Linked DNA regions of Homo sapiens. The protein of the gene in region 2 interacts with the protein of the main gene of each other region in a pairwise test. Each region holds a gene or a part of one and is shown on either strand. Other genes may lie near its edges.

Region 1 (3,500 bases), on a different chromosome or scaffold from region 2:
GTGGTGGCTCACACCTGTAATCCCAGCACTTTGGGAGGCCGAGGCGGGCGGATCATGAGGTCAGGAGATCGAGACCATCCTGGCTAACATGGTGAAATCCCGTCTCTACTAAAAACGCAAAAAATTAGCTGGGCGTGGTGGCGGATGCCTGTAGTCCCAGCTACTCGGGAGGCTGAGGCAGGAGAATGGCGTGAACCCGGGAGGCGGAGCTTGCAGTGAGTGGAGATCGCTCCGTTGCACTGTAGCCTGGGCGACACGGAGCGAGACTCCGTCTCAAAAAAACAAAAACAAAAACAAAAAACAAGCTAGGTGCGGTCGCTCACAATCCCGGCACTTTGGGAGGCTGAGGCAGGTGGATCGCCTGAGGTCAGGAGTTTGAGACCAGCCTGGACAACAGTGAAACCTCATCTCTACTAAAAATACAAAAATTAGCTGGGCATGGTGGTGCATGCCTGTAATCCCCACTACTAGGGAGGCTGAGGCAGGAGAATCGCTTGAACCCAGGAGGCGGAGGTCGCAGTGCCATTGCACTCCATTCTGGGCAACAAAAGCGAAACTCCGTCTCAAAAAAAAAAAGGAAGTAAGACTAGGATTCTACTCAACCTTCTCATTTTTATATACCTGTATCTACTTTTCTTCTAAGCCAAACATTTTGGTTCTACTTGCTCACTGTTTCAACCCACACCGTACACATTTCAGTCTCAGAACAAGATGAACACGTGAACCTCGAAAATTTGAGACAGGTCTCGGTTAACTTAGAAAGTTTATTTTGCTAGTGTTGAGAATGTGTGCCTGTGACACAGCCTCCAGAAGTCCTGATTGACATGTGCCCAAGGTGGTTGGGCACAGCTTGGTTTTATACATTTTAAGGAGACATGAGACATCAATCAATATATGCTAGAAGTACATTGGTTCAGTCCAGAACGGCGGGGACAGCTTGAAGCAGGGAGGGAGCTTCCAGGTCACAAGTAGGTGAGAGACAAATGGTTGCCTTCTTTTGAGTTTCTGATAAGCCTTTCCTAAGGAGGCAACCAGATATGCATCTATCTCAGTGAGCAAAGGGATGACTTTGAATAGAGTGGGAGGCAAGGCTGGGCATGGTGGCTCACGTCTGTAATCCCAGCACTTTGGGAGGCCGAGGCAGGTGGATCACCTGAGATCAGGAGTTCGAGGCCAGCCTGGCCAGCATGATGAAACCCTGTCTCTACTAAAAATACAAAAATTAGTCAGGCTTGGTGGTGGATGCCTGTAATCCCAGGTACTCAAGAGGCTGAGGCGGGAGAATCACTTGAACCCAGGAGGCGGAGGTTACAGTGAGTTGAGATCGTGCCATTGCATTCCAGCCTGGGACAGAGTGAGACTCCGTCTCAAAAAAAAAAAAAAATAGGAATCTTAACATAGCATAATATTAAACTTTAATAGAGTTGTTTAATTGTTAATGCTTATTCTGGCCTTTCTACATTGAGGAACCTTGAGTTTAAAGGAATGAGGGGAAGCACATTTAATACAGTTTGCCTTTTGAGCTTAATTTTTCTAGAAGTACCTTTTTAAACAGTTGTTATAACTAATGTGTAACACTGTTTTTGATAACTGTCAGCTTAAACATGTTGAGCATATATTTATTTAATTAATTTATTTTTTTTGAGACAGACTCTTGCTCTGTCACCTAGGCGGGAATATAGTGATGTGATCATAGTTTGCCGCAGCCTTGAACTCCTGGGCTTAAGCCATTCTCCCACCTCTGACTCTGAAGTAGCTAAGACTGCAGGTTCATGCCAACAGGCTTGGCTAATTTTTTTTTTTTTTTGAGATAAGGTTTCAAAAGCCTGAGCTGTGTTGCTCAGGCTGGTCTTGAATTCCTGGTCTCAAGTGATCCTCCTGTCTCAGCCTCTGAATATGCTAGGATAACAGGCATGAGTCACTGCACCTGACCTGTTTCCAGGTTTTTACTGTTATAAGCAGTGCTCCAATTAATATTACATCTCCATATTGGGCACTTATGAGGTACATCTATAAATACATTCTCAGAAATGAAATTGCTATGTCAAAGAATAATTGCACTTTTCATTTGCATAGACATTTCCAAATTACCCTCCTGGCCCCAATTAATATTCTTACATTTCCATCTTTGGGCACCTATGAAGTATATCTATAGATACATTCTCAGAAGTGAGATTGCCATGTCAAAGAGTAATTACACTTTTACTTTCCGTAGATGTTTCCAGATTATCCTCCTAAGAAGTTACGTTGGTTTATACTCCTACCAACTGTGTATTTTCTCCACATAATTAAGTATGGACACTAAAGTAACAATAGTCCCTATCTTACATGGTTATTGTGAGGATTAAATGAAGTAAATGCCAAAAGGTACCTACTAAGCTGTCAGCAAATGACTTATATTATTAATATAATTATTGTTTTTTTCTGAACTTTATTACCAGAAATATTATAAACCTAGACAGTGCTTCATGAGGTTGGGAAAGAGGGTTCATACAATTGATCTGAGCAATATATGCCTCCAAAATACTGTTATCTGTATTAGAACAGACGAGCTCTGCATCTAGGCCTTGGGCCCAGGGAGTCTGGCATCTGGGGCTGACGTTAGGGGACAGAGTCCACAGGTATATCTCAAATTTGCTGGAAAGGGCATGCCTCAGGAATGGGGCGCAGTAGATGTAACTACATGTGTGCCTCTGCAGCCTGGAATGGCAGCTGTGGCTGTTTGCATGGGGAGGAGAAAGTCATCATTTGGGAGGGACCTTTAGAATATCCCATCCCAAACACTTCTCTCCTTCTCTTACTCTGAAGGGCTTAATTTAAATTTGCTTTGTGGATTAACGTATTGAGAATGATTTAGGGAGTTCCTTACCTAAAAAATGTTTTCCCTCATCTGCACACTGTCGCTTGAAATTTATTTCACAGGAGAGGGAGCCGTAACCATAGGCAGTGTGGTATTATGAAAGGAGTACTGGCTCTTCACTATGGGTTTACTGTGGTTTGCTGAGGGTAGTTGAGTGGGTGAGAAAGTCACTTAGCTGCCCCAAGCCTCACTTTTCTCCATCGGAAAATTAAGTAGCCATGTAATACATGAAAGAGAGAATGTTGTGAAAACACTTTGAGAATGCAAAGGCCAAGTGAAAACATATGTCCGTACAAAAGCTTGTGTGTGAATGTTCAGAGCAGCATTATGTTTAACAGACAAAAAGTGAAACACCCCAGATGTCCATCAGCTAATGAGTGGATCAACAAAATGTGGTCTGTTCATACGATGGAATAGTAGTTGGCAATAGAAAGGATTGAAGCACTCATACCTGGTACAACATGGATGAACTCTGAAAACATGCTAAGTGGAAGAAGCCAGACACAAGAGACCATGTGCTTCATGATTTTACTTATGTGAAATGTCTTCAATAGGCAAATCTTTTTGTTTTTTGTTTTTTGTGAGACTGAATCTCACTCTCTTGCCCAGGCTGGAGTGCAGTGGTGCGATCTTGGCTCAC
Region 2 (3,394 bases):
CCTCCAGCTCGGGGCCATGATGGGTTGCCCAGGGGAAGCTGCCGAGTTCCAGCTCCTCAAAAGCACGAGTGCCCTTAAAGCCCAGCCCCGAAGGCAGCAGGACCCCCGAGAGAACAGGACGACCCAGCAGACCCCGAGAGAACCGGACGGCCCCGCAGAAGGAGGCCAGGGCTGGCGTCCCGCCCCGGTGCCGGCGCGGACAGAGAAAGGAGCCCGGCCTCCCTCCATTCCCTGCAGCCCCTTCCAGGTCCCTCCCCGCCCCCAGCTCTCGGAACCGCTCCCCAGTCCCTTTCCCATCAGAGGCTCTGCCCCCAAAACCTCTCCTTCCAGCCCAGTGTGGAGGGAGGCGCTTGAGCTCAGGAGAAGGAAGGGACGCAGGCGACCCCATCGTTCCGAGGCCACCGGGTCCAACGCGAGCAGGAGACCCCGCTGTCCTCCCTCCCGGCGCCGCCCTCCTGCCCCTCGCGCCCCTGATGGAGACAGCACCAGCAGACGGCGGGTTGCTTGTATCACCTGCTGTTTATTGATTGCCGCGGGCTGCGCTCTCATGGGCGACCCATGTCCCCAAGAGCGGCACTACATAGAGGGGTTGGAGGAAGACGGTCTGAGAGAAGAGGCCGCGAGAGCCCAGGTGCACAGAAGCCCCGGCCCCACGGGCCTCACGCGCCCCAGGAGGTGTGGGCAGGGCCCGCCGCGGAGGGAGGCTGCAGGTGTGTCAGGAGGCACCTGGCCGGAGGTCACCCCCTCCTTCTGGACCCTCAGCAGAGTTGAGGCGCCTGCACCCCAGGGGAGCCAGGCTGCTATCTAAAGGAGTGTGAGGTGCGGTCACTTCCGCCACTGGCCGGTGTCGGGGTCTGGGACACCCTGAGACCCTAAGCTCTCCTGGCTGCTCTCTCAAACCCTCATTCCATGTGAGAAGGTGGAAAGGAAAAAAGGGAAGCAAAGGAAGACAGACACCCCGCCCTCAGGGTGCTCCCCCCATGATGGGCCAGGGCTGCAGGGGAGCCAGCCGAGGCAATGCCTGCTTAGGACGAGGGAGCCGAGGTGGGCTTCTCCTCCCGCGACACGGGGATGGCTCGCTCGGCGTGGGTGGCATCCAGGCCAGTCTGGATCTTGGGGCCACAGAAGGTCAGCATGCCATCGGCAGACAGGGAGCAAGAGAGGGCCGACTGGTCCACGTTGGACGGCAGGCGGTAGCGGCGGTGGAACTCACGGGAAATGTAGCCGTGGTCGTCCTGGAGAGGGTGGGGGCGCACAGTCAGGGGGGCCACTGTGCAGGCGGCTGCCTCGCCCCATGCCAGAGAAGCTGCCCCAGCCCCACTGACTGCAGAAGGGGGCCAGCCTGCGGGGGCTCTCACAGGGGCCGGGTGCAGCCAGCACATCCCATGGCCAGGCCCCCTGGGATTTATGGATTCATGCCCCTGCTTCTCTGGACCTCAGCCTGGCCTCGTGGCCACTTGCCGGGCTATTCCCCGCGGGGGGTTGTCTCTTCCCGCTCCATGGCTTCACTCCAAAATCGCAGGATCATTCCAGACCAGGCCCCGCACCTCAGCCAGTCTTCCCCTTCCAGACCCCGCAGGACTGCTCTAGCCCAGGTCTCTGCAGCCCTACCTAATGTGGCCAGACGACCCACATGCTTCCACGTCCCCTGGACGCCCTAAACCGCAGACTCAGCTCCCTGGGCTGACCTCCTCCTCCACTGGGTGCAAAGACCAAGAGCTGGGAGCTCAGGAAGCATGTTCCAGGCTGGCTGGGGCTACGTGGGGGCTTTACCGGGCCCAGGCGAGGGAGGGGCAGCACATGAGGAGGTCAGCGTTCACCCCCCAGCACCACCTTCTCCAGCCATTGAAAGAGGACCCTGGCCAAAAGAAACCAAGACTTTGGCTAAGAGTTCCACCTTCCAGCCCCACTCTGCTCTCCAGCCCCCGCGGGGCACTGTCCATCTGTGACAGTCCATGAGCTCTTCCCGGCTCCGCCAGGAGATGCAGGTCACCAGGGCTCCAGTGCCCCGGCTCCCTCAACACCACGGAGATCCGAGGCCTCCAGCCGAGCAAGAGCGGGGCATCAGGGTGACTGTGGGGAGAAGCTCCCGTCCACCTGCCCGGTACTAGCTGTGGGACCCAGCAGGCTGAGGACCCCCTTGTTCCCCAGCCGTGCCCTGGAATAATGAGGACACTGGTTCCAAAGTGCTGCTGTGAGGCGAAGGTGTCAATGCCTGTAAAGCATTCCAAGCGGATGCAGCTATGCCGTCGGGGACTGGCTTCCTCAGGTAGGGTTCATGTGAAGATGTACACTGGCTAGGAGGCGGCCACCCGGGGCACTCCCACTTCCTGGGGTTCTTTCTAAGACCACCCTGGCATCCAGGTGACAGGGATGGAGCTGGCGACGGCTGGGTGCAGCCCGGGAAGGGACCCTAACCTGGATCCCTGAGCCACATTAGCTCGGGAATGGTGACCTCTGTCACCGGGAGGGGCTGGCTGTGCTCAGGTGGGCACGGCCCCTCCCTTGGGGAAAAGCCAGGCCTGATTCGGGGTCCCCTGGAGAGCGTCCCTCTCCCAGGGTTGAAGGCATGGTGCAGGTGTGCAGGCCCGGTCGTGCCCGCCGTGACCCCCTTGTCCTCGCGCCCAACTCGCCCCCCTCTCCCACCTCTCAGTGCCTGGGCTCACCTGGCGCTCGTTGTGCTTTCCGTGGATCTCCACAAAGTCGTCCTGCACCTTCACGGTGAGGTCCTCCGGGGAGAAGTGCTTCACATCGAGGAAGATGACGAACTTGTCCCGGTCGGATCGAACCTGAAATCCAAACGTGCCATGTGGAGCTGCCCAGAGGGTGCCGTCCCTGCTGGGGTTGGCAGAGACAGGGCGGGTCCCGGTTATCAGAACAGAGATGCTTCGGTCACCTGCCGGCCTCTTCTCCCACACACCAAGTGGGGCAGAGCTTTCGGGGGCCTGTGACTGTCTCCTGGACAGACAGGCATGACCCTCGACCTGTCTCCAAACCCTCAGGGCCAGCTGAGGGGCTGAATGCTACTGGTGGGCCGGCTGGTTGTTTGGCTATGGTCAGGTGGCTGGTTATAGATAAGTTGGCTGGTTATGGGCTGGCTGGCTACTGGTTATGGTAGGAGGGGTCGTTACGGGTTGGTTGGTCCGTTAGGGTCAATCGTCTGGCTGGTGATGCTTGGCTGGCTGGCTGGACTCAGCCTGTGGAATGAGGTCACTGCCCTTGGTGTCATGCTGTCTATAGAAGCGGCCGGAGCCTGCTGACAGCCTGCGCAGCTGCCTCTCCAAAACGCACTTCCACATGCTCCTTCTCACTCCCCTGGCTCAGCCTTGGCTCCCTGAGGCATTTTGCACCCTGGCATTGATGCCTACTGCAGCAGCCCTGGGGAGGACCCTGT

What was found. Proteins that work in one complex are often made in the same cells at the same time.
Region 1: the proteins of alpha-crystallin A2 chain (region 2) and ADD1 interact in binary tests that used the Homo sapiens proteins (3 or more experiments, as listed by UniProt).

Annotation. Positions count from the first base shown.
Region 1 is NC_000004.12:2,846,844-2,850,343, forward strand, and holds part of ADD1 (alpha-adducin), read left to right. Parts: intron 1-3,500. UniProt on the Homo sapiens protein: Membrane-cytoskeleton-associated protein that promotes the assembly of the spectrin-actin network. Binds to calmodulin.
Region 2 is NC_000021.9:6,561,596-6,564,989, reverse strand, and holds the end of alpha-crystallin A2 chain, read right to left. Parts: intron 3,071-3,394; exon of another isoform or gene 2,975-3,070; coding exon of another isoform or gene 2,897-2,974; intron 2,790-2,896; coding exon 2,667-2,789; intron 1,236-2,666; coding exon 1,026-1,235; 3' UTR 501-1,025; downstream 1-500. UniProt on the Homo sapiens protein: Contributes to the transparency and refractive index of the lens. In its oxidized form (absence of intramolecular disulfide bond), acts as a chaperone, preventing aggregation of various proteins under a wide range of stress conditions.